Regions from separate parts of the Homo sapiens genome. Here regions 2 and 3 are each linked to region 1. Evidence: fine-mapped expression QTL. A gene starts in region 1. Each other region holds a variant in brackets. All regions are shown on one strand. Distances are from middle to middle. Region 1 holds the start of TMPRSS13 (transmembrane serine protease 13). Region 2 has its middle 13 kb from the start of FXYD2. Region 3 overlaps IL10RA (interleukin 10 receptor subunit alpha).

The links. PIP is the estimated chance that this variant, and not a neighbour inherited with it, causes the effect.
Region 2: its variant is fine-mapped to the expression of TMPRSS13 in lung (TOPMed, PIP above 0.99).
Region 3: its variant is fine-mapped to the expression of TMPRSS13 in whole blood (TOPMed, PIP above 0.99). The same link has a PIP of 0.9 or more in blood mononuclear cells.

Annotation. Positions count from the first base shown.
Region 1 is chr11:117,922,520-117,933,820 of GRCh38, forward strand. TMPRSS13 (transmembrane serine protease 13) reads right to left here and starts at 6,883. Exons shown (of 13, transcript NM_001077263.3): 1 at 6,768-6,883. The coding sequence starts at 6,788. RefSeq lists enhancers at 9,566-10,105, 9,744-9,873, 10,106-10,644.
Region 2 is chr11:117,805,903-117,816,966 of GRCh38, forward strand. It overlaps a transcript of DSCAML1 not described here. Among named protein-coding and RNA genes, the nearest start is that of FXYD2, 13 kb to the right of the region's middle. RefSeq lists enhancers at 3,504-3,573, 3,624-3,673, 7,908-8,485, 9,275-9,354. The variant A/C (reference allele first, on the strand shown) is at 6,948.
Region 3 is chr11:117,989,513-117,997,512 of GRCh38, forward strand. It overlaps IL10RA (interleukin 10 receptor subunit alpha), which reads left to right. Exons shown (of 7, transcript NM_001558.4): 3 at 1-108; 4 at 3,729-3,898; 5 at 4,487-4,637; 6 at 6,077-6,198. Among named protein-coding and RNA genes, the nearest start is that of IL10RA, 7.1 kb to the left of the region's middle. RefSeq lists an enhancer at 5,069-5,238. The variant A/G (reference allele first, on the strand shown) is at 3,820.

The DNA.
Region 1 (11,301 bases):
GCCCAGCCGAGACTTCTTATCCAAGGTCCCAAGCTACAAGGGGCAGAACCAGGACCAGAACCCAAGCTTCCCAAATCCTGGCCTTTGGCAGTGAGCCGAAGACTCAGAAGTGGAAGTGAAATGACCAACTCCTTGATGTGTCCTGGTGTCTCCACAACCTGCCTGCAGACCAAAGGCTTCTCAGCCTGCTCAGGGGCAGGTGCACAGGGTGGAGCAGGGGAGTGTGGTCAACTCTGAGCCACATCCCTGGCCTAACCTTGCCAACCATTCTTTCCTGACCATGCCTCTCCTCCCCACCTACCCGTGGGGTAGTCTCTGAGGTTACCCCCTGCAGTAACACAATTGTAAGCCCTTACCATGACATGGAACAGGCCCACACCCCAGGCTGTCACTGCTACCACCTGGCTATGCCTCTGCAGCTCCCAAGGGTCCTCACCCAAGGCTTGTTCAGGGCCCTCCAGACGTGTTGGGGCAGGAAGGCAGGGCAGGGGTCCGCAGGAAAGCGGTAAGGGACAAGCCAGGGAGGGCTAAAAGGAGCAGCCCCTGGCTCTGGGAGTCTTTCCAAAGCCTGTCCCTGGACAGAAGTCTATAAGCATTTTTACTCCCACTTTACAGACTGAGAGGTAGAGGCCCAAAACATTTGTGTGCTTTGCCCAAAGTTGTTCAGGCCCATCTCACAGCAGAGGAGGGACTAAACCCAAGGCCCCCCACTTCCAGCCCAGGGGTCTCGACACCACAGCTCCCAGGGTTAGATCCCCCCTGAGGCGAATGGGATGTTTTTCTGGTTTCCAGTTGCAGACTCTGCCCCTTGGGCCGTTACCTGGTGGGGATGGTAGTAAGTTAGCCAGCCCCTGAGTATGTCCAGCTCTTGTCCTCTCCTGGACCTTCTGGGGGCCCAGCCAGTGAGAGAGGGGGCCTGAGTGATGTGGGCTCATGGTTGCTTCATCTCAGTGGTTATGGAGCTGCTGCTGTGGATCGAGCCCCAGGCTCTGCATAATGAGAGTTCTTCAGCCATAAGCAGCAGCCTGAACTTGGGAAATATGCACTTCAGGTCCCCCAGAGCCTGGGCTTGCAGTGTGAACCACCCTATAAAAAGCTCTCCCGCAATTGAACAATGAGAACACTTGGACACAGGATGGGGAACATCACACACCAGGGCCTGTCGGGGAGTGGGGAGACGGGGGAGGGATAGCATTAGGAGAAATACCTAATGTAAAGGACGAGTTAATGGGTGCAGCACACCAACACGGCACATGTATACATATGTAACAAACCTGCACGTTGTGCACATGTACCCTAGAACTTAAAGTATAATAATTAAAAAAAAAAAAAAAAAAGCTCTCCTTCTAGTCCTGAAGAATGTCCAGCAGGGAGCAGTAGCTGCTTCATGGCCTGAGGGCGGGTGCATCAGGGCCCGTTTCAGTCCAGTTTAAGCCAATTGGGCCTCCCTCCTCAGCCCTGGGCCATCCCTTCGTAAAGCTACCACCCAGGGTTGGGCATATCACAGGCTGTCAGAGTTGCAAAGATTCTGAAAACCCTCTAAGCTGGGCGTGGTGGCGCCGGCCTGTAGTCCCAGCTACTTGGGAGGCTGAGGTGGGAAAATGGCTTGAGGCCAGAAGCTGAAGACCAACCTAGGCAACATAGCAAGACCCCATCTCAAAGAAAAGAAAAGAAAAGAAAAGAAAACCTACCCAAGCCCTTTATACTATTGTTGAGGCGATGAAGGCCCAGAAAGGCTGTGTGACTTGCTCACGGACACACAGCCAGGTGGGGACGGTGCCAATTCTAGAACCATGATCTTCTGGCCCCCATCCTTGGGCTGTTACACAACACTCTGCTCTTCCCCTCTCTGTCCCTTACCAGCCTCCATGAGAAAGGACCCTTCCCAGACAGAGGCCCCCGTGGCAGCGTCCCTTTTCCAGTGACCCTGGGCATCAAGGGCGCCCATAGGGTGGGCACGGGCAGACCATGGGCCAACAACCCAGCACTCTGGGCTAGGCAGGAAGAAAAACCCCTCACTAAACCCTTCTGGAAGCACTGGCGGCACTGAGAAAGATCAGGATCTCCCTTTGACAGAGCCTAAAAACCCTCCTTGCCTGTTGGGAACCTGGGGAGCCCTGGGGTTGTGGCAGGGGAGGCCTGAACCCTTCCCAGCGAGGGCCCGGCTGGACTGGGTGACTTTTTTCCCTTTCTCACGGCTAGACCCAGGCTTCACTGTACCTCCAGGTTCCCAAGGCCCTTTCCTACTCTCCCCCTCCCCGAACCCAGAGAAACCCCACAAATACAGGCTCTCCTCAGCACACAGGCATCTTCCCCACCACCTCCTCACCCAGCACCAGCATCTCCAGCACACACGCAGTATACAGCTCAGGGACTTGGGTCAGCCCTTGAGGCAGACTGAACTCTGGAAGGGGCCAGAGCTGCAGGGTCTGCCTCGCCCTGGGGGTGGGGGGCACGGGGAGCCTCGCTTCTGCTCCTAGGCCGCCGTGTGACCTTGGGGACAGTCACATCCTTCTCTGGGCCTCAGCTCCCTCTTCAATAAATTAAGGGTGTTGGACAATCAGCAGTTTTCAAACAGGGTTCCACAGAGCATTTCAGTTTCCGTGGAGGTGCCTTGCAGACCAGCTGGTGGGGACTGTGGTGGGCTCTGAGCCCTTACCCCACCTCAACAGAGAAGACCGACCTTTCAGTTTCATACAGCGGAGTCAACATAACATTCATTTGAACAAAAGAGGCAGCTGCTACAACGAACTTGAAAGGGACTGGCCAGAGTAAGTGCTGAAGTCCCTTCTAGTTTCCGATGCCTCCTGTGCACATGAAAAAGCTCAAGGAATCCCTGTTAGACCAGAATCAAGACGCCTCCTTGTTCATTCATTCGTTCATTCACTCATTCATTCATTCATTTATCAAATGCTGTAAAGAACATGGAGTGCCCACTATTGCCCAGCAAATAATGTTTGATTGCCCAGGAACTTGCTGCCTCAATGTTTCCCTGTGTCTGTGCCTTCTCTTGCTGCCAGTCCTAGGGTAGTGACACACTCAGGGCTGGTACATAATGGGGGCCCCTCTAAAGTTTTGGGTATTGCTTCCCTCCTAGGGAAACCAACCCCCATCTGGTGCTGTCAAGGCCTCCACTTGACGGCTAAAGCCAGGGTTCCCTGTGGTGGCTTCCCTCATGCCTGCACCACCAGTGCCCTGCCCACTTGGCCAGGCACATCCACCCTTGTTGTTGCTATACCAAGAGGAATCTGTTCTGCCAAAACAAGACACTTAAGCTAAGTGGCCATTGTTACATCAGTTGTCCTTCCCACCCAGCTCCCCAGCCCAGGGCCCAATACACACACTCCCGCACGCTTACGCTCACATCTGCCAAGTCTCAGGGGACAATGCAGGGGAAATCGAGGTGGCTGTGCCAAAGGAAGTCTGCTCCTCACCAATGACAACATGAAACAGAGGACAAGGTGAGGGCTGCACACCTGCAGGGGCACAGGGCAGGTACCAGGGTCCTTGGAGGACGAGGTGAAGGCTGCACACCTGCAGGGGCATAGGGCAGGTGCCAGGGTCCTTGGAGGACGAGGTGAGGGATGCACACCTGCAGAGGCATAGGGCAGGTGCCAGGGTCCTTGGAGGACGAGGTGAGGGCTACACACCTGCAGGGGCATAGGGCAGGTGCCAGGGTCCTTGGAGGACGAGGTGAGGGATGCACACCTGCAGAGGCATAGGGCAGGTGCCAGGGTCCTTGGAGGACGAGGTGAGGGCTACACACCTGCAGGGGCATAGGGCAGGTGCCAGGGTCCTTGGGGTGCCTGGGGCTGGGATGGGGCTGGGACACGGCATGGCAGAGTGACTTGACCCGCGGGTGAGCCATCTCAGGAACTGCCCAGCTCCTCTGGAAAGGGTGCCTTATCCTGGACCAGCGGTGGGCCCCCAGACGGTTCTCACCAATCCCTAGCACCTGTGGCCTTGGGCTAATTTGGAACCTGTTCCACTTGAAGAAGGCCCAGTATAAGAAAATCCACTCCACAAAGGAATGTTGCTTCATCAATGGGTCTAATTCAGTCTTTCTTTAATAAGCATTGCACTGCTCTGAGAATTAAAAATGAGAATTGAAAAAGCACAAAATACGCATTGTCAAGAACAAATCTGGTGTGGCGCACCTGTCATCCCCGTTCTATGTAATTCCAGACTGTCAGGGAGCCAGAAAGGAGCCTCAGGGGGGAATGTGTCCAACCCTCTTCTTTGGTGGGGAAGCTGAGGCACAGGTAGAAGAAGATGTTTGTCCAAATTTATAGGAGCCCACCCCAAATTCTAGGCAGTGATGATAAATTTCAACATTCTCTGACTCCATCTCTATCTATCTATCTCTATCTCTCTATGCCAGATGCTATTCTAAATGAGCCTTACTATGGGAAGGACACTATTTTGAGACTCCTTGAGGTAGGTATTATTAAATTAAGCTTAGCCTAAAGCTGCCTCCTTACATATTTTAAGTTCGGATCAAAAGGTTTCTCTGTACATAATGAACTATAACTCAACTGGACGTGTAAACAGACTGTAAACTACTCTTGTTAACAATCACCAATTTTGCACAATCAAAGGCAGCCAACTGTTCAAACAGTGTTCAAATAAGGCTATTTCTGTACCTCACTTCCTTTTTCCATACACTGCTTGCCTTTTTCTGTCCATAAATCCTCTCCGACCACGCAGCTGTGTGGGAATCTCTCTGAATCTATTCTCCTTCGGGGGACTGCTCCATTTGAGAATTGTTCTTTGCTCAATTAAACTCTGTTAAATTTAGTTTGTCCAACATTCTTCTTTTGAGAGTAGTATTATTATTCCATTTTACAGATGAAGAAACTAAGGTACAGAAAGGTGAAGTGGCTTGCCCAAAGCTGACGGGGAACATGGTCAGTTCTCTGTCCACCACGACATGCAACTTTCTTTTGAATATGAGAAACTGAGACCCTTCTCCACCTCTTTTCCAAGATCCCTCTGAAGATCCAGCAGCTGACAGAGGAGTGCCATCAGGCTCAAGCCCACTGGCCACCATCTTCCTCACGACATTTTGGAGTTGAGGGACAGAAATCACAATGCATCTCTCTGCAATAAAGCCCTCAAGGAGAAGGCACAAGCTCAGGTGACCAGCTTCTCCCAGACCACTCCTATTTAATCAAGGTTAAGAAACCTGCTGCAGATGGGAATACGAGCCCCAACTATAGGCTCACTCTCTCAGAGTTCCATCTTAAATAGGGGAGTGAAGTTAAGAACCTTAAATAAGAATGTAATGATTCCATTCTTCCATTCCAAGGTAAGTTTGGACAATCTTTTTTTCAGAATGAATATGGCACCTATCATAATATTTGACACTTAATTCATAGATTAATTGGGAGTTCCTCAAAGAAGTCTGTTCTCTGTCCTGTATCCCTCCAGCAGCCTTCATGTTGATCCCTGACTCTGAAGAGATGAGCTTCCTGGGAAGATATCGCCCCATCACCCTGTCTCAGGGATGGACTATCCATCTCCAGTGGGAGCATGGCCACCCTCCGGATAGCTCAGCCCTTCTCACTCTTGGGTTTAGGGACCATCTAGTTTAGGCTCCCAGCATATTGCCAAGGAGGATGCCCCATGGCTGTGACTAAGGGTTCACCTTCTGCATGCCCTTGTGTACCCCCCTTACTGCTCAACAGTAAGAGGCTCTGATAACCCCCCAAGGCCTAGGGCCAAGTGACTTTGGTGAGGTAGAGACATGAACGAAGGAGCCCAGAGCAGAGGGCAAGGGAGGCAGCCTGGGAAAGAAAAGTCAAGAGGGGGCTGGAAGAATGGTGGGAAAAAAATGATGGTAAAGTTTGCAGAAACACATTGGGGGTGCAGAATGGACCACAAGCCAACTATAAGCCAAAACATAGGATGAGCTGATCTTTCCCAAACCCAGTGCTAGCCCATTCTTCCCAGAGTCCCAGGCTCTACCATGTCGGTAAGGTACAGAGAATTTGGAGGGGGCAGAAAACAAGACCTAAAGGAGAAATGAGAGCACAAAAGGGATTTCCTGGAGGAAAAGAAAGTGGAGGCACAGCAGAACAAGATCTTTGGAAGCCTTCATGTGTGTATGACTGGCTTTCCCACAGAGGACAGGCCAGCTGCTTTCTCCTACCCCAAGAGCAGCAGAAGAAAGGAAGTTGAGTGGTAGCAGGACTTGTGGTTAAACATCAAGAAGCACTTCCCAAGCATGAAAGTTATTAAGTCCAAAAAGAAGTGACCAACGGAGGTTGAAACATCCCCTTGAAAATCTTGAATGCACCCAGAAAGTCACAGTTTTCTGGGAAGGTTTAGGAGTGTAGTGAGGGGTTTAGACAAGATGCCCCTGAATTGCAGTTAGAATGCTTTTGATTTTCCAACCAGCAAAAATGAGATTAAAGTAGATTAGCCTGGATTCCCAATCGGCAAAGTTGGTGCTGTAACACTATGGATGCCCGGCAGGAGTGCTCACAGACCACAGAGCAGGAAACCCACGACTCAGCCACATAGCCCTGGGGTGCTCACCAGCCAGACCCCAAATCCCAGCAGCTTCTCCTCCCAGGGGCTTTTTCTAGAACCACGTTAAAAGGAGACCAAGAGATCTTGATCGTAAGTAGCTTCAAACTAGAAGAGGCACAGCCAGTTTCCCCCAAACCTGAAACACAGAGGTAGCTGTCCCACCTGTCTCCCAGCCTCAGCCCTGCTTCCTCAGCGCTGGGAGAATCTGGCCCGAGGCCTGAGGTCACACTCACCCCGTGGCTGTCCCTCTCCATGGTCTCTGAGGGGAAGAGTCCTCCAGGCTTAGCTGATGTCGAGGAGAAGATCCATCTTGGTCCCTGGCTTCTCAGGCATGTAGGGTAAAGGAGTTGGAGGGCCAAGGGCCAGCCCCCACCAAATGGGGCGGGGAAGCCGGTTGGGACGTGTGAAGTAATCCCCAGTATAAACAACACAGAACTAGCCAGACCTGTTCCTCTGCCCCTCATCGAGGCCATCCCAGTTACTCAGCGAATACCAAATTCCAAATACCGGGAACCTGAAGCTGCCTTTACTCATGAAACTGCCCCCACAGAAGCAGAGGAGTGTTCTGAGCTACTTCTTCAGAGGGGCCCTGAGAGAAAGGGCAGAGCCTTGAGAGGATGGTCTTGGTCCTGTTGACCTGAGCCCCTGAAACAGATGCTCCAGAGCCTTCTGAGGGATGACCCTATCCCCACAGGGGACGTTCCAGGCCAGGGGCAGAGCCCCACCTATGGCAGGACAGTGGGAACCTTCATCTCCAAGGACCAGGTGTCCAAATCCCAAATCAGGGCACATGGTCTCTGGGCGCATGGTCTGGCAATTGCTTTCTCCTGAACTCTGTTTGTTTTTATGAAACTCTTAACAAAGAAATGAAAATCAAATGACCTTTAATTATGCACATCATGAATTGCCCTCTATTGAAAACAATAAAGTGCCAGAAGCAACACATCAAAGTCAATGAAATAAAACATAACTATCTGAATGGAAACTGTTCCAAGAAACATTGGGCTGACTCGTGATCCCAAACCTATACCCTATTCTGATCCTCAGAGTCAAAAGAAGTAAAGGAAGGGCTATTGCAAAAGGAGTCCTTAGCACCTCCGGCTAAGTTCCAGCTGAGCTGCTGCTGAGAACTGCAAAAAAAAAAAAAAGAAAAAGGAGTTCCTGTTGAGGTTTGGGAAGAACTTTCTTGAGCATTCAGAGGCACCAAGATTTTTAGAGTTTGAAAGAAGCTCATGGATCTTTAGTGGTTCACTCTTTTCATTTTACAGACTGCGAGACAGAGGGCCAGAGAGGCTAAGGAATGTGCTCAAGTCACACAGCAAACAACAGCAGCAGCAATAATCTTAAGATGCCAAGAATCCTGCGAAACACTTCACACGCATCCTTCACGTGTTCATTCAACAAATATGTATTGAGTGCCTGGCATTGCTTTAGGTGCTGGGGACACAGGAACAAAATAGGCAAAGCCTCCTGCCCTGTGGCTCTAGTATTTGCGGGTTGGGGGGAAAAAGCAGACAAAAATCAATAAATCAGTTACACAGCCTCCTAGAAAGTGAAAAGTGCCGTTCACAAAAACAAAGCAGCGAAAGGATCCAGAAGGTAGGGGAGGCAGAGTCCTGGCAGTTGGGAACAGGATGGTCAGAGAGGGCTCTCTGTGGTGACATATTTGAGCAAAAACTGAAAGGAAGTGACTACTATCGCCCCCCATTTACATTCAAGAAAACGGAAACTTCTAGCTCACAGTGGAAACTGTGCCCCAGCTTAGGGTGTCTTGAGGGAAATCTAACCCAGAGGCAAGAGGCTGGAGGAGAGAACTCTGGAGGGCCCAGGCAGGGACCCTAGAGTTCTCTCATCTTGGCTTATTGTGGGAGCCACTTCCCTGGCTTTCAAAGAGAGCAGAATTCAGCCACAGGCCACATCCCCTTCCTGCCCCATCCACCAGCCCACCATGACAAAGGGGCCCCTCCCATCCATCCTCCTGAGAAGATACCCACCTCCTGTCCTCAGCTGCTCCTCTTCCCTCTCTCCCAGGGAGGAGCCCAGCCCCTCTCTGGCTGCCACTGAGCCCTGGCACGCCCAGGCCAGATCCGAGGGCCTCCACTTCATCCCCCAGGCAGGCCACTGGTCTCCGAAGGGCACCCTCAGCCTCCTTCCCTGAAGGTCCCACCAACCTAGGGAAAGAGCTCAGGCTTGGGGGTCTGGGCGAGTTCGGGGGAATGAGAACCCTAACTCTGAGGGGAACTCGCAAGGCCTGACAGGTTCACCATCGGGAAAATGAGAACACATAGAACCAGAGGAAGTGCCTGGCACGGGGCACAGGGCACTGGGAAGGCTGGGAAGGAACATCAGTTTCACCTCTTGCTCTTTTCCTTGGTTTGCATCAGAGACACAAGTTGGCCTGTCCCAGAGTCCTCGCTGACAAAGCAGTCTGACCCGTGTGACATCCCCACCAAGGGCAGTTCAGTTCAGCAAGGATTGACTGCTCAGCACCAGGCCCACGGTGGCTGCTGGGGAGTGAGAGTGGTGGGCAAAGAACAGAAAGGCAGGGGCCCTGCCCTGGGAGAACACACAGTTGATGTGTTGGGGCGGGTGGCGGGGGGACACTGAGGAATGAAATTCCTAGCTGGTGGTTTTCCTATTTTCAGAGTGAAGGCGCTGCGGCAGCACAAGACCTGGATGCTTCCCCCACAGAGCTGGACTTAGAGGCCTGCACCGCTTTTGACTTCCCCACTGACCCTGGCCTGGCCCTTTCCTTCCCCCTCCTCCCGGCCTCCTTTGCTGTCCTCCTGACTGTACAATCCCAGGCTCTCTCTGACTCCCACCCTTTCCTTTGCCTCCTTCTCTCTGGCCTTGGTCCCTGGCTTTCTCCCTTCAGCTCCCTGGTTGCCTTCTGGAAAGACACCTGCCCACCTCTGGCTACTCCACACCCAGAGGCTATTGGCAGCACCTGGGACCCACCTTCTGCTCCCTCAACGCCCCAGGGAGAGTGTAGGCCAGCCATCAGGCCCATTTGTACCCTGGTCATTTCCTACCTGGGTCATTTCCATGTGGAGTGAAGGGAGTTTTACAGAAAAATGTCAGCCATGCAAACAAGCACACATCTCCTGGCAGCTGTCCAGGAGAGTGAGGTGTGAGAAAATCTCACTACTGTTTTGAGACTAAACTCCTAGCTCTCTGCTTCCATGGCTGTTCTAGCTACCACTACCCCAGTGCCTTGGGAACTCCTTCCTGAGGCTCCAGCCTGGGAAACAGAGCTCTGGGCCTTCTATTCCCAGCCTTGTTATCTTCCTTGGAGTTCCCACCTCGGGCCCATGTTCCTCCCTCCTGAGCCTATCAGCAGCTTCACCCCTGAATCACCTCCCAACTCCCTGCTTGGAGCCCTTGCCTACCCTTCCCCACTTTGCACCCCGCTTCTGAGCTTCTCCACCACTCTTGGCACAATAGGTGGGTTTCCCTCCAGGCCTGAGGGCAGCCAGGAAACCAACTACATACTTAAAGACTCAGTGTGGCAGAGGGGAGACACTGGGTCCACCCTCAAGGGGGTGAGTCACCAGGAGCCACCCCTGGGCCCAGCACACCTAACGCTCCTATGGTCTGTACTGCCCCACCCCCCAAGCCCAGCAGTCTTCCCAGCTGCAGCCCCAGGCAGGTCTCTTCCGCCCCCACTTAGCCTTCCAGGGCCGTCCTGGGTCCCTCCAGGCTGTGGTCCTAGCCGTGCCTCTCCCCACTCCAGGCCTGCAGAGGTTGATCGCCATTGAGTTCTGTGGACTAGAGGCTGGTTCTCTCTTCCTGCTTTTCCCTTGGGGCTGGACATCAGTGATCAAGTGAGGCACTTGCCCAGGCTGCACAATTTAAGAGCGTGCCCAAATAATCAAGATAAATCATGTTTTAATGAAATATTTTTAAAATCTGCATTAACGGGAAAAGTCCAAGGTGAATAAAATATCAGAATTTTAAGTAAAGACAGGATCAGCTTTCCATCTGGATTTTGTCTCCCCCTTTTATTACTCACATGTTAGCAGGGCCCCATTTCCCCTCGTGATTATTCCTTCTACTTTCTGCAGGATATTGTCCCAGCTGCTCAAAACATCCAGGCCAACCAAGAGCAAGGAAGGCCTCTTCCCAGGGGGTGAGCTCCCTCTCTGCACAGAGCAGACCTGAGCCCTAGAGAGCTGTTGTCTTCACTGTGAATTTCCACCCTGAGTTCCTTCTTTTTTGTGCCGTATTACTTCATTTTTGGTCTTCCATGAATCTGCATGGCTTACATGTTCTTTGTTGTGGCTGAACAGGAGTCCTCAGAATTAAGCAAACTGGTGCCTGCCTGACCATTTGTTGAACATGGCACTTGCTACCAATCTGTTCTAAGATTTGTTTTTTTAAATTAACAATGCATCAATAATAAGTTAACAATTAAATGAAGGCTGACAAATGTGCACACCTGTGTAACCATTATGACAATCAAAATCTAGAACATCCCCATCACCCCAAAAAGTTTCCTCCCACCTCTTGCAGTCAATTCTCCACCCCATCCCAGCCCCAGACAATCACTGATCTGCTTCCTGTCACTAGAGGTTAATTTTCCCTTTTCTGGAATCTCATCTAAATCTCCCCTAAGATTTAATGCTGAACCCTGAGCGCAGCCCAGCCGCGCCACTGCCTCAGGACTCACATCAGGTGCTAGGTCATCCAGATATGATAAGAGGAGGCCAGATCATGTGGAGAGATTTTTTTTTCAAGCCAAGAGAAAACAGCCCATGAGTCCATACC
Region 2 (11,064 bases), 120 kb before region 1:
GCATCTCCTGCAAGTGCCTAGGAAACAGTGGCTGGCAGGTGAAGGGCGTCCCAGGTCACATGGCAGAGTCAGGGCTTAGGTCCAGGGCTCCTGACCGCCTGGCCTGCGCTCAGCTAAGTGGTGTTTACCTCCCTCCTAGGCCCTGTTGCCTTCAGACTCTTGCCCACCTTGTTCACCACTCCATCCTCAGTACCCAAGGCAGGTCTTTGATGACTGTTTGTCGAATGAAGCTATGATGATGTGGCTGGGTTGGATGATCTTTACAGTCTCACCTAGGGCAAGGGGTTCGATAAGTCTGTGAAGAGAGCTGCTTAAGCTCAGAGAAAGGAGTGGTCAGTAAAAACCAAGGTAGGATGTGAGTTGGGCTTGAGCAATGGGAAGGATATGCAGAGAGGCAGGGAAAAGGCCTCCCTGCAGGGGCTCAGGAAAGCCTGACTCTATGGTGTGTCTACCCATCTGAGACACCCACACATCTGGCACATGGCAGTTCAGAGCTGTGTCCTCAAAGACTCATCGGTCCAAACTCTGAGCTGAACTGGCGGGCTAATTGTTTGTCTGCATCAGCCAAAGTAGCTTCTTCTTTTGGCAAATCATAATCAGAGTCCTGGACTCCTACTAATAACAATGATTATAATTGAGCACTTGCTGTGGGCCCAGCACTATGCTAATTACTCCAGATGCATAATCTCCAAACAACCCTATAAGACTGGTATGATTATTATCATCCCCATTTTACAGACAGTGAAACTGAGACATAGAGAAATTAACTAAGTTGTCCAATTCACGCAGCGTCAGATGCTCAAGGCAGTCTAATTTCAAACTCATCATTCTATGTATTGACTTTGGTGGTGGTGGTAGTGTTACTGCTGTTACATTTTTTAAAGTTTGAACATGGAAAATTTCAAGAATATACAAAAGTGGGGAGAACAGTATAACGAATTATTATGCACTCATTTCCCAGATGCTACAAGAGTTGACTCATGGCCAGTTTTTTGTTTCATCTATGCTCCCCTCCCATCACCATGAATTTTTCTGAAGCAAATTTCTTGTGTTACATAATTTCATCCATTGATCATTTTGTGTGCATCTCTCAAGGATGAGGCCAAATCCTCTTTCTCAATCACAATACTTTTTGCCTCCTGACTGAGAAGTTCCTTGGCCGGGGCACCCGCTTCCCCCAAGCCACACGCCAGATTTCAGGCTAGCCACTTCCCCACACAGTGGGCACAGAGGCAACAGGCTCAGCGGGTAGCCTGTCCCCAGCTCCTCACCACACAGCCTGACCAAATGGCATCTCTCTGCCTCCTCAGAGTGAATTTTTATCGCTGAAGCCCCTGCCATCAGTCTAGTTGCTCTGCAGATGGGGAACTGGATGTGGTGGTCTGCCTGGTGGGGTTGTTGACACAAGGATGAGTCTTTCTTGACCAGGCCTGTCCTAGGCTCCAACCCTGGCCTTGCCCCAAATCCCAGTACCTACTTCAGAATGATTTGGGGGGTGGGAGATCTCCTCTGCCTGGGAGGAAATGACTCCCCACTCCGCCCAGCCTAAGAGCAAGAAGGGATGAGATGGAGCCAAGAACCTGGAGTCAGAGATTCACCGCACTTCTCATGAGCTGGGAGGACCAAGTCTCACCTTTTTGGTCTGTGGAAGTGGGAACAGAACACCGACCCTGCAGCGTGGCTGTGAATGTCTAAGGAGATGGGCAAGTTTTCTCCGCAGAGTTGTTTAGCTAGAGAAGGTCACAGTACCTGCCATGGCCAGCAGGTGTCGCCCAAAGACTGAGTATGAGAAACCTTTGGGCGGGATGGGGGCTCCTCCATGGAGATTATCTTTCAATATTAGATACAGCTGGACTTGGAAGAAGTGGAAGAAAATTCAGCCTGAAGGGTTTCTCCTTTGAAAACTCAGTCTGGTTCTGGCTTTCGTCGGAGTTAAAAATTGGAGCTTTGCAGTTTTCACCCAGGCTAGAGTGCAAAGGCGTGGTCTCGGCTCACTGCAACCTCCACCTCCTGGGTTCAAATGATTCTCCCACCTCAGCCTCCCGAGTAGCTGGGACTACAGGTGCATGCCACCACACCCAGCTAATTTTTGCATTTTTAGTAGAGATGGGGTTTCACTTTGTAGGCCAGGCTGGTCCTGAACTCCTGACCTCGTGATCCGCCCGCCTAGGCTTCCCAAAGTGGTGCGATTACAGGCGTGAGCTACCGCGCCCGGCCTGCAGTTTTCAAAGTATGCTCACATGAAGATACCACAGCAAGACAGACATCAATATCCGCATGTTACAGATGAGGAAATTGAGGCTTCAGAAAGAGAGTGACTTGCTAAAAATTATGCAGGCACTAAATGACAGAGCCATTAAGTGACAAAATATAGAATTAGAAGGCCTTCGGACTCTATATTCTGGGCAATCTGCCGACACATTCCTATGGGTCAAACCTTTAGGAGGAGTCCTGAGACCATGGCTGGGCTGTCCCTGCCCCTCTGGAAAAGATAATAGGCGCATGCCCGAAGCCCCTGGCATGCGACATGCTATCCCCTGAGAGCATTTGCCATCTCTGGGTCTCAGTGGCTCCGAAACCACACAACTACACATGCACACAGGCACAGGTGAGGTGAAGGAGAGAGAGATCCCAGACTACAGAATCCGGGATCTGTATTTTCTGTTTCCCAGTATTTGGATGTAAGAAGCTTAGCATAGGTCTTGGGGCTGGCATTTGGGAAATCCTGAACTAGAAGATAAACTAGAAGGTTTATGTTCTGTAGTTTCATAAACACTATCCACTTAAGCTTGTCAAAAACACTAATACAGTGTCTGGCACATACTTGATAGTCAACAAAAATTTGCTGAATAATAAATGGCTGAAAAACACGCAATCACCCAGCCCAGCAGAAGCCTTGGTGAACACTGCTTCATCCCTCACCCACTTTACATGTTCGCAGCACTTTGTGGCGTACATATCTCATTTACACACATGATCTCGTTCAATCTCTTTAATGAGTTGGATATCACAAACCCCATCTCACAGATGAGAAAACTGAGGCTCCGAGACACTAAAGGACTTCCCCAGGGCTGCCCAGGTGGTCAGTGACCGAGCCAAGCTCACGCCCACGCCTGTCTACCCTGCTCTAGCAGCTCCGTCACTGCCCCGCCCCTGCTTCATATCATTTCCACTGCGAAGCTTGAGAGGAGGAAAAATCCATCCAGAGAGAATGAATCTTCCAGATCCGTTGGGAATGCCTCAGATTTAGGAGAGGCGACCTCAGGAGTTTGCCCTGAGACCCCAGGCTCAGGAGAAGTCTTGCCTCATTTGGCGAAGGGGCTCAGTGCAGACCTCCAGGGTGGGGCAGGTCCTGGGAGGCCAGCTGCCGCGTCTGCACTCCTGGAAAGTGCAGTGTGGGAAGGGTGGGAGCTGTGGGAAGGGAGGGGAGCCCTCCTCCCCGCTGTGCCTGACTCCTTGGGCGTGGCTCTGATGGCTGGAGAGGACAACCCGCCTCCCTGGCCCACTACTGGATGTGTCTCTGCGGTCCTCCGCGGAAGGAAGCTCCAGGCCTCCGCACTGGGAACCTGGTGTCTGCCTCCCCCTAGTGCCACAGGACAGGATGGTGGCGCCGCAGGCTGCTGTGCAGTACAACATAGACGGCGGCCACTCAAATTCTCCACTACACAGGTCCTGCCCTTCACCCCAGTCATGTCTCGCAGTGAAGCCGGAGGCTGGGCTCACTCCCTGCCCCAGCCTGTGTCCTTGCCAGCCTCTAAGAACTACTGGAGGGGACCAATGGTGTCCTCCAAAACAGACCTCTGATTCTCAGCTGAGGAGGCTGAATCGCCGCGCAGCGCTCCAGATGCTAGGTCCACCCACGCAACCCTCCTGGGTTGCTCTGCTCCTCCCCAGTTCCAGCTCAACTAGCAACGCACAACACACACAAACTCACACAGTCACATACACACTCACACTCACTTACACATTCACATACTCTTACACACACACACCCACACACTCACACACACATTCACACATTCACACACACGCATATTCACATACACACATTCACACACTCACACATTCACACACACTCATACACACATTCACATACACACATTCCCACACTCACACATATTCAAATATTTTCACACACATTCACACTCACACACATTCACACACTCACTTACACATTCGCACACACATACACACATTCACATACATACATATTCACATTTCAATCTTGGCGCCACACTTCAATCTCTCCCTTCTCTTAATTTCAATTCCTTTCATTTTCTGATAGAGACAAAGGAGACACGTGGACCCAAAACTCCGTGGACCCAAACTCCGTGGACCCAAAACTCCGTGGACTCAAAACTCCAGCGCCCTCTGGGGGAGGGGCAAGTACCCCTCAACCCCTTCTCCTTCACCCTTAGTGGCAAGTCCCGCTTTTCTAGGGGGCAAGAACCCCCAATCCCTTATTTCCGCACCCCGACCTCTTATCTCTGTGTCCCAATCCCTTATTTCCGCACCCCGACCTCTTATCTCTGTGCCCCAATCCCTTATTTCCGTGCCCCAACCCTTTCTCTGCTTTTCTGGAGGGCAAGAAACCCCCACCCCCTTCTCCGTATCTCTACTCTTTTCTCTAGGCTTGCCTCCTTCACTATGGGCAAGCTTCCACCTTCCATTCCTCCTTCTTCTCCCTTAGCCTGTATCCTTAAGAACTTAAAACCTCTTCAACTCTCACCTGACCTAAAATCAAAGTGTCTTATTTTCTTCTGCAATGCCGCTTGACCCCAATACAAACTCGACAGTAGTTCCAAATAGCCGGAAAACAGCTCTTTCAATTTTTCCATCCTACAAGAGCTAAATAATTCTTGTCGTAAAATGGGCAAATGATCTGAGGTGCCTGACGTCCACGCATTCTTTTACACATCAGTCCCTTCCTAGTCTCTGTGCCCAGTGCAACTCGTCCCAAATCTTCCTTCTTTCCCTCCCGCCTGTCCCCTCAGTCCCAACCCCAAGCGTCGCTGAGTCTTTCTAATCTTCCTTTTCTACAGACCCATCTGACCTCTCCCCTCCTCGCCAGACCAAGCTAGGTCCCATTTCTTCCTCAGCCTCCGCTCCTCCACCCTGTAATCTTTTTATCGCCTCTCCTCCTCACACCCGGTCTGACTTACAGTTTCGTTCTGTGACTAGCCCTCCCCCACCTGCCCAGCAATTTACTCTTAAAAAGGTGGCTGGAGCTAAAGGCATAGTCAAGGTTAATGCTCCTTTTTCTTTATCCCAAATCAGATAGCGTTTAGGCTCTTTTTCATCAAATATAAAACCCCAGCCGAGTTCATGGCTCGTTCGGCAGCAACCCTGAGAAGCTTTACAGCCCTAGACCCTAAAAGGTCAAAAGGCCATCTTATTCTCAATATACATTTTATTACCCAATCTGCTCCCGACATTAAATAAAACTCCAAAAATTAGAATCTGGCCCTCAAACCCCACAACAGGACTTAATTAACCTCACCTTCAAGGTGTACAATAATAAAAAAAGTTGCAATTCCTTACCTCCACTGTGAGACAAACCCCAGCTACATCTCCAGCACACAAGAACTTCCAAACGCCTGAACTGCAGCGGCCAGGCGTTCCTCCAGAACCTCCTCCCCCAGGAGCTTACTACAAGTGCTAGAAATCTGGACACCAGGCCAAGGAATGCCTGCAGCCCAGGATTCCTCCTAAGCCGTGTCCCATCTGCGCGGGACCCCACTGGAAATCGGACTGTTCAACTCACCTGGCAGCCACTCCCAGAGCCCCTGGAACTCTGGCCCAAGGCTCCCTGACTGACTCCTTCTCGGCTTAGCAGCTGAAGACTGAGGCTGCCTGATTGCCTTGGAAGCCCCGTAGACCATCGCGGATGCCGAGCTTTAAGTAACTCTCACAGTGGAGTGTAAGTCCATCCCCTTCTTAATCAATACGGAGGCTACCCACTCCACATTACCTTCTTTTCAAAGGCCTGTTTCCCTTGCCTCCATAACTGCTGTGCGTATTGACAGCCAGACTTCTAAACCTCTTAAAACTCCCCAACTCTGGTGCCAACTTAGACAACACTCTTTTATGCACTCTTTTTTAGTTATCTCCACCTGCCCAGTTCCCTTATTAGGCCGAGATATTTTAACCAAATTATCTGCTTCCCTGACTATTCCTGGATTACAGCTGCATCTCATTGCTGCCCTTCTTCCCAATCCAAAGCCTCCTTTGCGTCCTCCTCTTGTATTCCCCCACCTTAACCCACAAGAGACCTCTACTCCCTCCTTGGCGACCAATCATGCACCCCTTACCATCTCATTAAAACCTAATCACCCTTACCCCACTCAATGCCAATATCCCATCCCACAGCAAGCTTTGAAAGGATTAATGCCTGTTATCACTCGCCTGCTACAGCATGGCCTTTTAAAGCCTATAAACTCTCCTTACAATTCCCCCATTTTACCTGTCCTAAAACCAGACAAGCCTTACAAGTTAGTTCAGGATCTATGCCTTATCAACCAAATTGTTTTGCCTATCCACCCCATGGTGCCAAACCCATATACTCTCCTATCCGCAATACCTCCCTCCACAATCCATTATTCTGTTCTGGATCTCAAACGTGCTTTCTTTACTATTCCTTTGCACCCGTCATCCCAGCCTCTCTTCGCTTCACTTGGACTGACCCTGACACCCATCAGGCTCAGCAAATTACCTGGGCTGTACTGCCACAAGGCTTCACAGACAGCCCCCATTACTTCAGTCAAGCCCAAATTTCATCCTCATCTGTTACCTATCTCGGCATAATTCTCGTAAAAACACACGTGCTCTTCCTGCTGATCGTGTCCGACTAATCTCCCAAACCTCAATCCTTTACAAAACAACAACTCCTTTCCTTCCTAGGCATGGTTAGTGCAGTCAAAATTCTTACACAAGAGCCAGGACCGCAC[A/C]CTGTAGCCTTTCTGTGCAAACAACTTGACCTTACTGTTTTAGCCTAGCCCTCATGTCTGCGTGCAGCGGCTGCCACTGCTTTAATACTTTTAGAGGCCTTTCCTACAAGGTCTGAGAAGGCCACCACAGTCATTTCTTCCCTTCTGTCAGACATAATTCCTCAGTTTAGCCTTCCCACCTCTATACAGTCTGATAACAGACCAGCCTTTATTAGTCAAATCAGCCAAGCATTTTTTCAGGCTCTTAGTATTCAGTGACAGACTAATGGTCTATTAAAAACACACCTCACCAAGCTCAGCCACCAACTTAAAAAGGACTGGACAATACTTTTACCACTTTCCCTTCTCAGAAGTCAGACATGTCCTCAGAATGCTACAAGGTACAGCCCATTTAACCTCCTGTATAGATGCTCCTTTTTATTAGGCCCCAGTCTCATTCCAGACACCAGACCAACTTCGACTGTGCCCCAAAAAACTTGTCATCCCTACTATCTTCTGTCTAGTCATACTCCTATTCACCGTTCTCAACTACTCATACATGCCCTGCTCTTGTTTACACTGCCGGTTTATACTGTTTCTCCAAGCCATCACAGCTGATATCTCCTCGTGCTATCTCCAAATTGCCACTCTTAACTCTTGAAGTAAATAAATAATCTTTGCTGGCAGGACTATGCTGAATCTCCATAGGCACTCTCTAATTAAATGTCCTAGGTCCTCCCAATTCTTAGACCTTTTATACCTGTTTTTCTCCTTCTCTTATTCCATTTAGTTTTTCAATTCATACAAAACCGTATCCAGGCCATCACCAATCATTCTACATGACAAATGTTTCTTCTAACAACCCCACAATATCACCCCTTACCACAAGACCTCCCTTCAGCTTAATCTCTCCCACTCTAGGTTCCCACGCCACCCCTAATCCCGCTTGAAGCAGCCCGGAGAAACATCGTCCATTCTGTCTCCATACCACTCCCCCAAAATTTTCACCGCCCCAACACTTCAACACTATTTTGTTTTATTTTTCTTATTAATATATGAAGGCAGGAATGTCAGGCCTCTGAGCCCAAGCCAAGCCATCGCATCCCCTGTGACTTGCACCTATACGCCCAGATGGCTTGAAGTAACTGAAGAATCACAAAAGAAGTGAAAAGGCCCTGCCCCGCCTTAACTGATGACATTCCACCATTGTGATTTGTTTCTGCCCCACCTTAACTGAGTGATTAACCCTGTGAATTTCCTTCTCCTGGCTCAGAAGCTCCCCCACTGAGCACCTTGTGACCCCCCTTCCCTGCCCACCAGAGAACAACCCCCTTTGACTGTAATTTTCCATTATCTTCCCAAATCCTATAAAACGGCCCCACCCCTATCTCCCTTCGCTGACTCTCTTTTTGGACTCAGCCCGCCTGCACCCAGGTGAAATAAACAGCCATGTTGCTCACACAAAGCCTGTTTGGTGGTTCTCTTCACACGGATGCGCATGAAACTTAGTTCATAATTGGCTAAGCCAGGGCTCAAATCCAGGTCTGCTGATTCCAAAGCCTGTGACCTTAGCTGTGAGGCCAAGGAAGAAGGGATCACGCACACCTCTGACCACCCCAGCTGCCTACCCTGACCCCACAACTTCCTTGCTCCTGGAGGCATGGAGCAGGGACAGGGGTGGTCCACCTGGTTGGTAATCAATCACTCATTCATTCCTCTACTCAACCAGTCACGTGTGCACTCAGTAAACATGTATGGAGGGTGCACTAAGTGCCCAAAGGGGGGTGAGGCACTGGGATCGGTGGGTGAACTTTCAGATGCAATCCCTCCCTCATGTAGCTTATAAGCAGTGGGGCCTCAGATGTGAAGGCAAAGCTCAGAATTCAGGGGATTCAGGGTCCCCTGGCAGGTGCCCAGGGTGCTAGAGAGAGCAGGTCAGGAACACTCTTGAACAGCGGAGGCCCAGCCTGGCTCGTCCCCCTCCTGCCCCCTGGGGCGGGTGTCTGCGGCCTCCAGGCTACTCCTGGATGATTTTATTAGCTGTGTTGGGAGCATATGGTCCTCGGACATGAGACCTGAAGTAGTATTTACTGGAGAGCCGAGGACACCGGGTTCCCGTGTGGGCTGGGTTTGGCACGCACTCGGTTACTGATTGATAGGCCATTCAGGAAACAAAGACCACAAGAGAATTCAGCATGCTCCTGGCTCGGGGCCAAGCCAGCCTCATCTCCTTTGCTTTGTCAAGTGTGTCTTTTTGTCTGCCTTCATCACTTGCTGGGCGCCTCTGTGTTCACTGCCGGGAGGAAGCCAAGTGTGTATTTGCAGGGGCTGTGGGGGTGTATCCAGCTTTTCTCTAAGAACAGCTATCCAAGGGGCGGGAGGGAACAAGGGGGTCAGCCACAGCTCTCCCCTTACCCCTTCCCCTGAAAAGTCACAGCTCCTTGACGTGTGAGCTGAAGCTTGGGACTTTTGTCTTGTGTCTGTTTTTTCCAAAGCCAAGTCCAGAGACAGACCAGGGCCTTCCCAAGGTCACACAGCAAGCCAAGGGCAGAGCTGGCAGTGAAACCAATTTTCCACCTTCCACGGTGTGGTCTGCACTGAGCTGCAGGCAGGGCTTCCGGGGCCACAAATTGCTTCCCCAGCTCAGAACATTGCCCTCTTCTCCCCTCCCTGCTGCCCTGCTCACCAGGGGGAATTCCTCTCAGTGACACCAAAGAAGCCCTTTGGGGAAGTGACAGTGAGCATTTCTTGAAAAGGGAACCAAGTTTAGACATCTAGAGACAGTAGCAGCCGCGGTGACTGGCGGCCTCCTGGGGCTGAGGAACTTCGGGGTGTCACTCAGGGTGACAGCAGGTAGCCCAGCAAGCCCATAGGAGCAGGACAGGCCAGGCTGGGCCTCCACTGTTCCAGGACTGTTCCTGACCTGGTGTCACCTGCACCCTGTGAAGGGAAGCTCAGAATTCAGGGAGACTCAGGGTCCCCTGGCAGGTGCTCTGCCCTGGTCTCCCGCCCTGCCAGGGGACCCTAAGTCTCCCTAAATTCTGAGCTTGCCTTCACATCTGAGGCCCCACTGCCTACAAACTGAAAATGAAATCTGCCAAAACGGGTTGGGGAGCTGCCACTCCTGAACATAGCTCGTCCCAGTCCCTTCTAGGCATGAGGTCCCTCCACACCTGGGGGAGACCCTCCCCCAATCTCCCAATGCCACCTTCTTTGCCCCTCCAGTGTCAGGTTGAAGCTCTGGGAATGAACGTTTGAAGTTCTAAACAGGATTTCTTCCCAAGTCCTCAGTCACTCAACGGCAAACTATGAAGTGTCCCCAGCCTGTGAGGCTCCTCCTGCAGCCAAAACTGGGAGGGGGCACTGAGTCTGGGCCCAGGCTTTCTTCCAAGGCTAGGACACTCGGGCCCTTCCGTGGCTCTCCCAGTGCAGCCCTGGGCTCAGCACTGCCCTCCCAATGTCCCGGAAGGAGGCCGCTGTGGCCCTGGCTCCGAGGCCCAGGCCCAATCCATCTTCCCAGCCAGTGACTCGCTCTGACAACAGGGCCGAGCTGCCGTGGCATTTGCCTCTGATCTCCGCTGGCCAGGCATTTGTCAGGCAGCCTGCTAGGAATGAAGAATGGGCGCTTGGTGAGGCACAGATTACCCGCCCCAGAGGCCCCTGATGAATTGCAGTTCAGAGCTCAGCTGCCTGGGGCCATGGATCAACAGGGAGGCGACTAATCTCCCCCACAGCAGCCCTGCCGAGCAGAGCGGAGGGAGGGTGGAAGCCTGGAGAGTCTGGGAGGAGACGCTACACCACCCCCTGCCCTGGGCCTTTCTTCAGCACAACACCCCTCACGCCCTCCACTCCCACCCGTCTGTCCAGGGAGCCCACTTCCTTCACTAGACGCAGCGCCAGTGGAGACGCTCAGTTCTTTGGGGGCACCCCTTCCTTGCTCCCTGTACAAGAGAGAGAGTTCGGAATTGCTGGGGGGGTGGGGTGGAGATTTCTCCTGATGCCCCAAAGCATTTAGAAAAACTGGAGGCCCATGCCAGGGGCACCCTCACCCTGGACAGGAGATCAGCCTGTAGGAGCTAGCGATCGGCCTGTCTGAGGCTCTTCTTCCTCTGATGGGGAAGTCCAGGCCACCCAGCCA
Region 3 (8,000 bases), 65 kb after region 1:
CCTTGGACCTGTACCACAGCAATGGCTACCGGGCCAGAGTGCGGGCTGTGGACGGCAGCCGGCACTCCAACTGGACCGTCACCAACACCCGCTTCTCTGTGGATGAAGGTGCTTTTCCTCCCTTGACTTAGAACATGGCTCTGAAGTCCCTTCCAGCCAGGAACTCTAGTCTAGAGCTTTTCTGTCTATTACCATAGCTCACCATGTCTGCCAGCCTCCCTGGCCGGAGAACTAGTTGCCCAAACAGGGCAGGACTTTGGAGAATGTTAGATAAAAATAGCCCAAGTTGTTTGAGATTTAAAAGGGAACTGGAGTTGTTTATCCTACAGAAGAGAGGTCTTGGGGTGGGTTGGGACAGCTGAGTCACCAGGTCCAGGCCTGTGAACTTGTTTTTTCAGGGAGGGTTCAGGGAGAGGAAGCGAATCCATGAACACTCAGCATAGGGCAGCAAGCAGTAGGCAGAATTTGGGTGAACGCCCCGCTTCTTTAGGGGTGAACACCCAGGGGTCATCCCTTTGAAATGGGAAGTGCTACTAAAGAGAAGTTATGGATCCCTCTCTGGAGAGGTAAGAGGAAAGGATAAGCCCCCAACTCAGTGGGATTTTTCATCCCACCAGTTGGGATTGAGAAAGTTTTGTGTGCATGGAGACCTCGCTCTGTAGGATTCAGAGTTAGAGCCGATGGTCTAGGAGGTCATTGGCTTCCAAATGCCTGCCCACAGGCCACTGCTCAGCTGGTGCAGAAACGTTTCCCAGCAAGTGTGTTTAAAATATCTATTTCCAGGGCCCAGCCTCAGAAATTCAGACCAACTGTGTCTTGAATGGGCCCAGGGCATCTGTATTTTTTTTTTTTTTAACATTTTGTTCTTCTTTGTATTTTGATTTGAGCAAGGCAATTATAAAAAGACATTTTTGAGGAAATCACCATATTTGTATATGAAATGGTTTTTAGGGCATATTACTAGGTATTTGTTTGTTACATGTGATAACAGCATGGTAGTTATATTTACAAAGGTGTGATATGTGAGAGATACATACTTACGTAATTAGGAATTAAGTAATACAGTGCTTGGGATTTTTCTTTAAAATGCTAAAGTAAATTTCATGGGGGGATATTGATGACCCTCCCCTGCCACCAATTACTTCAAAATTGGCCTAGTGTTTGCAATTACTAAAGCTGGGACTTTGGAAATCATTATATTCTCTTCTACTTTTCTGTCTATTGGAAATTTCTACATAAAAATATAATCAATGCAATTTATCACATTAACCATTTAAAAAAGAAAACAACATTTAAAAAGAAACTAAGCAAAGTTAAAGTAGAAAGAAAATGTCCTAACCTGTAGAAAGGTATCTATCTACACATATCTACCATAAATATTATGCTTAACAGTAAAGTGTTGGGCTGGGCTCGGTGGCTCACGGCTGTAATCCCAGCACTTTGGGAGGCCAAGGTGGGTGGATCACCTGAGGTCAGGAGTTTGAGACCAGCCTGGCTGACAAGGTGAAACCCCATCTCTTCTAAAAATACAAAAATTAGCCGGGCGTGGTGGCGTGCACCTGTAGTCTCAGCTACTCAGGGAGGCTGAGGCAGGAGAATCACTTGAACTCAGGAGGCAGAGGTTGCAGTGAGCCAAGATCAAGCCATTGCACTCCAGTCTGGGTGACAGAGCGAGACTCTGTCTCAAAAAAACAAACAAATAAACAAAAAACAGTAAAGTGTTGAAAACGTTTTATAAAAAAGTTTTTCTTTTAATTGACAAGTAATAATTCTACATGTTTATGAGGTACAGTGTTATGTATACATAATACATGTATACCTTGTGGAATGATCAAATCAAGGTAATTAGAATATCTATCACCTCAAATATTTAGCATTTCTTTGTGCCAAAAACATTTAAAATATTATCTTTCAGCTATTTTGAAATATACAGTCCATTATTATTACTACAGTCACCTTGCCGTGCAATAGGCACCAGAACTTATTCCTCCTGTCTCACTGTAACTTGGTACCCCTCTCCTTGTTCCCTATCCACTTCTCCCACCTGCCTCCTTCCAGCTTCTGGTAACCACTTCTACTCTCTACTTCTATGAATTGAATTCTAAAAGAATTCTACTTAGATTCTATACATAAGTGAGATCTTATGGCATTTATCTCTTTGCACCTGGCTTATTTCGCTCATGATGTCCTCTAGGTCCATCTGTGTTGTCCCAAATGAGAGTTTCCTTTTTTTTCAATTTGAGACAAAGTCTTGCTCTGTCACCCAGGCTGCAGTGCAATGTCTTGATCTCATCTCACTTCAACCTCCGCCTCCCGAGTTCAAGAGATTCTCTTGCTTCAGCCTCCTTAGTAGCTGGGATTACAGGCACGTGCCACCATGCCCGGCTAATTTTTGTATTTTTAATAGAGATGGGGTTTCACCATGTTGGCCAGGCTGGTCTCGGACTCCTGACCTCAAATGATCCACCCGCCTAAGCCTCCCAAAGTGCTAGGATTACAGGCGTGAGCCACTGGGCCGGGCCTCAGTTTCCTATTTTTCAAGGCTGAATAGGATTCTGTTGTATATACATACCACATTTAAAAAACCCATTCATCCATTGGTGGGCATTTCCATATCTTGGCTGTTATGAATAATACTGCAATGAACGGGGGATACAGGTATCTCTTCAATACACTAATTTCAATATCTTTCGATATATACCCAGTAGTGGGAATTGCTGGATCACATGGTAGCTCTATTTTTAGATTTTCGAGGAACATCCATACTGTTTTCCATAATGGCTGAGAAATTCACCACCAGCGACATGCAAGGGTTTCCCTTTTCACCACATCCTTGCCAATGCTTGTTACTTCCATCTTTTGGATAATAGCCAATCTAACAGGTGTGGAGTGGTATCTCATTGTGGTTTTAATTTGCATTTCTCTGATGATTAGAGATGTTGACCATTTTTTCATGTATCTGTTGGTCATTTGTATGTCTTCTTTTAACTGTCTATTCAAGTCCTTTACCCATTTTAAAAACAGGTTTATTTGTTTTCTTGTTATTAAGTAGTATGAGTTCCTTGTATATTTTGGATATGAACCCCTTATTCAATGAACATTTGTAAATATTTTCCACCCATTCATAGATTGTGTCTTCACTCTAGTGGTTGTTTCTTTTGCTGTGCAGAAGCTCTTTAGTGTGATGCAATCCCATTTGTCTATTTTTGCTTTTGTTGCCTGTGCTTTAGGGATCGTATCCAAGAAATCTTTGCCCAGACCAAAGTCTTAGAACTTTGCCCCAGGTTTTCTTCTGGTGGTTTTTATAGTTTCAGGTGTTACATTTGTCTTTAATCCATTTTGTGTTGATTGTTGCGTAAGAGGTGAGACAAAGATCTATTTTCATTGTTCTGTTTGTGAATATCCAGTTTTCCCAACACCATTTGTTGAAGAGACTGTTCTTTTCCCATTGTGTGTTCTTGGCCCCTTTGTTGAAAATCAATTGTGGGTTTATTTCTGGGCTGTCCATCATATTCCATTGGTTGATGCATCTGATTTTAGGGTATATGTATTTTTAATGTGCTCCCCAAGAAGTCCTTACATTCTGCTGCATTGACAAACCTGTGGCCAAGTTTTAGGCCTAGGTTCTAATTAAGCTTAATTCTGGAGGCAAAGTCTCGGCGGGGACACCCAGGCCCTCCTCAGCCCTCAAGTCTCATGGTATTCCCCCCCACCCCAACTCCATTTAGTGACTCTGACAGTTGGCAGTGTGAACCTAGAGATCCACAATGGCTTCATCCTCGGGAAGATTCAGCTACCCAGGCCCAAGATGGCCCCCGC[A/G]AATGACACATATGAAAGCATCTTCAGTCACTTCCGAGAGTATGAGATTGCCATTCGCAAGGTGCCGGGAAACTTCACGGTATGGGGTTCCCCAAGGCCCCAGGGCCAGAACTCCCTTGGCTTCCCTGTCCCCTGGGCTGGAAGCACCCTTGTGTGCCATTGGGAACTTTGCTTATGGACTAAAGGGAGGGTCTGGGATGGTGGGTGGGCAGAGGAGGGAGTAGAAACCACCTCAGCCCTCAGAGCTATGCTCTTGTGAGATGCTCCTCAAAGGAATTGCCTACTAGGGCAATTGGGCACCCCAGAGCCCTTGTAGATGAAGCAATAAGGCTCTGAGAGGCTGTGTAACCTACCAGAGGGCGCCCCTGTTATGGGAGAGCTGGCATCTGCAAAATCCACCCTCTCTCCTCTCCACCACTGTTGATTCCAGCCCCTTCTGGGAAGATCTTCAGCATCTATAAAACACCGCTTTTTCTTTTAAAATACAAAATAAAATTGTGGTCATTACAGAGATCATGTGCTGCATTGGTAATTGTGGGGTTTGTCATCTTAGACAAAGGATACTGAAGGGGGTTGGCTGAAATCACCTCTAAAGGCCCACCAGCTCTCAGTGTCCGTGTGCCATGAAATAAAAGGATTTTGTTAATTGCTATCATTTTTGTTTCAGTTCACACACAAGAAAGTAAAACATGAAAACTTCAGCCTCCTAACCTCTGGAGAAGTGGGAGAGTTCTGTGTCCAGGTGAAACCATCTGTCGCTTCCCGAAGTAACAAGGGGATGTGGTCTAAAGAGGAGTGCATCTCCCTCACCAGGCAGTGTGAGTCAGCTGGGCTGCTCTCAGCATGGGGAGGGAGACTGGGAGGGCCTGGTGCAATCCAAAACGCGTGCACCTGGGATGCTGGTGCCAGCCACTGTGTTAGGTGCTGCTTCACATAGCTCTGCATCCTTAATAGGAGAGAGGTCCTACTGTCCTCATTTTAGAGATGAGGGAACTGAGGCTCAGTATTAGCAACTTCCTAGGGTTGCACAGCTAGGACTTGGTGGCAGAACCAGGTCTCTTGGATCTAGGGTCCTCCCACTGGAGCACAGCGGTGTTTCCCAACAACATCCCCCTCCCCCGGGGCCATCTTCAGTGAGCTGTGCTAGTTCCTGTTGTTACAGTCTTCTGCTGTTCTTCCTCAGAGCCAGGGATACAAAGGGCTTCTCCTTACTTCCCCTACTCTGCTCTGCTCCTCGCCAGAGCTGCTAAAGTCAGCAAATACTGCTCCAGGCTGTCAGTCAGGTGCCGGGGCTGTAGGGGGAGGGAGATAATAGAGGACATGGAGGCCACGGTCTTGCCTAGGAGGATCTTGCATCCTGGCTGGGGAGATAGAGTGTGCACAGAGGAGACTGTAACAAGCAACTCTTATTGGACAGCAGATGAGATGTCCAGTGCCCAATGAAACATGCCAACAGTAAGTGCTCTGGGAGGGCCCAGTCCAGTGTGGGCAGAGTCTGGCAAAGGTGAAAGTGACTCCTGCTAGATCTGCAACAAATTTCAGTTTGTGAAGGACACTCAACAGCTCAGTGTCATTTAAGTCTCAATGCAGAGGAAGGCACTAAGTGGGTATCAGGCAGTCTTAAGAGTTTTTCATACATTCATTCACTGATACATGAAATAGTTCCAAATCTCAGCTTTACAACTTTTGAGGTATATGACTTTGGGCAAATTACTTAACTTCTATGTGCTTCAGGATCCTAATATGTAAAAATGGGGCTGATGATAGTATTTACCTCCTATAAGTATAAAAGTTAAAAGAATCTGATGGTATTGGTACATGGTCAGTGCTGTGTACTTCACAACTACCTTATGAGGTCAGTGGCTCTGACAGAGTAATTAATTTGTCCACAATTGCACAGCTAGTAAGTGGTGAAGCTGGGACTTGAACCCAGATCTAGCAGCCCCCGGAGCCTCGATTCTTACCTGCTGTACCATCCTGCCTCACTGTTCTGTTTGCTGTGATGGGAGTCATGTGCAGAGAGCTGGAAGCAGTTAGCGCATCTCCTGAGGGAATCCTTCAGGGCATGGTTTGGAAGGCCAGGTAGGGATTCGCAGAAACCTAGACACATCTAGAGTTGTGGCCTGTAGTTTGCCTTGGGCCACTCACTGAATGGTTCCTGACAGTGGGCAATGGATTTCATGGGACCAGAGTCCTATGTCCAGAATCACCGTGCCCCATGGTGACAGGCCACAAACACATCTCTCTGGGCCTGCAGATTTCACCGTGACCAACGTCATCATCTTCTTTGCCTTTGTCCTGCTGCTCTCCGGAGCCCTCGCCTACTGCCTGGCCCTCCAGCTGTATGTGCGGCGCCGAAAGAAGCTACCCAGTGTCCTGGTGAGTCTTGCAAGGAGGTCACTGCCCCGTCCTTCCCAGCCACACCCGAGCTTCCAGGAGGGCAGGGAGCTCTTTTCCTCCCAGCCAGTCCATTGCCTTAGCTTGCCTCTGCTCTCAGCCCTGATGTGATTGGGAGATACCTTCATCAAGCGCTGTGGGGACAGAGGGAGGAAGTGAGCATGAAGCCCAGTACCGAGAATGTTGCCATCCAGTAGCTCAGATGAGACACATGGAATCACAAATCTCAATGACCACGAGCCATTTTGATATGATCTACTAGTAGTTGGCCATGGACTAGCCCCTGTGCATTGCATCTCTGATTATGAGGCACAGTTATTATCCCCATTTCATAAGTGAGGAAACTGAGGCACAGAGAGATTGTTACACACAGAGGGCCACACAGCCAGGAAGAGTCAGGGAGGGAACCCACTTTCCTACTGCTATTAGCCATGGGTGTTCCACAAGAGAGAAAGAAGGAAAGGCCAGAAGTGCTGGTCCTCGGGCTGCTGCCAGAGTGGGCCAGAGGAGAGAGGACACTGGGGGGCGGTGGGGATGCTGCGCCACTGGAGAGGGGATGCTGGCAGGGGACAGGGAGGGGCTCATGGAGGAGGCCAAGCCCTCCTCCCCTCCCAGGGTGTGTCCTCTTGCTACATTGTACTGACAAATGATACATTTGTGGCAAGCCAGTCTCCAAAACTCAGCTTGCAAAGATTGGGCAGCATTTTCCAAACCTCGGCCTGGTCTCTGGCCTGGAGTTCAGGCCGCATTGAAGATTGCCCACCATAGCCTCCATAGCTGGCACTATTGCATGATGGCTGAGGGATCAGCTGGGAAGGAACCAGCTCCGTCTGCAAGGCAGGGGCCCCACAACTGGAAGGGGAATCTCCAGAGCGATCCTGGGATCTCTAGGGAAAACAAGACGAGAGACAAGTGCAGTGGCACAATCTCAGCTCACTTGCAGCCTCACCCTCTCAGGTTCCAGTGATTCTCCTGCCTTAGCCTCCCGAGTAGCTGGGATTACAGGCATCTGCCACCATGCCTGGCTAATTTTTGTATTTTTAGTAGAGACGGGGTGTTGACCAGGCTGGTCTCGAACTCCTGACCTCCGGTGATATGCCCACCTCGGCCTCCCAAAGTGCTAGGATTATAGGCATGAGCCACCGCACCCTGCCCCTTCTGTACTTTTGGATCACAGAACTGACTTGTCCTTGAGGGTTTTTTCTCTTCAGGATAAATATAGCTCAATCCCTTCATCTGATGATCGTAGTCATTACCACATGAATAAATTATAATGCACAGAGCACTGACACATTCATTAGTTTGTTCTCATTCATTAGCTTGTTTGATTTGATCTTTCAACAGTTCATCAAGGTAAGTATTATTGGACAAGGAAGGGATTTCAAATCAGGACAGTTGAGGATGAATTCCAGATGTGTTCTTTACTGTTGTGCCACTTTGTGCAAGTCATTTAACTTCTCTGAGCTTCAGTTTTCTCCTCTAGGAAATAGAGGTAATAATACTTCTCTTACAGAATTATTGGAGGGTAAAGTTCAATTCAACATATATTTATTGAGCACCTTCTATGTACCACACTTTGTTCTAAGCACTGTAGACACATTACAACATAAGGAGGCAGGTACTGTCATTATTTCCATGTTACAGATGAGGAACTAAAGCACAGAGAGGGTAAGTAATTTGGTCAGGGTGACAAAGCTGATAAGAGTCAGAGCTGGGATTTGAACCCAGGAAGTCTGGCTCTAGAGGACACATCCTAAATCACCAAGCAATGTGATAGGAATAGG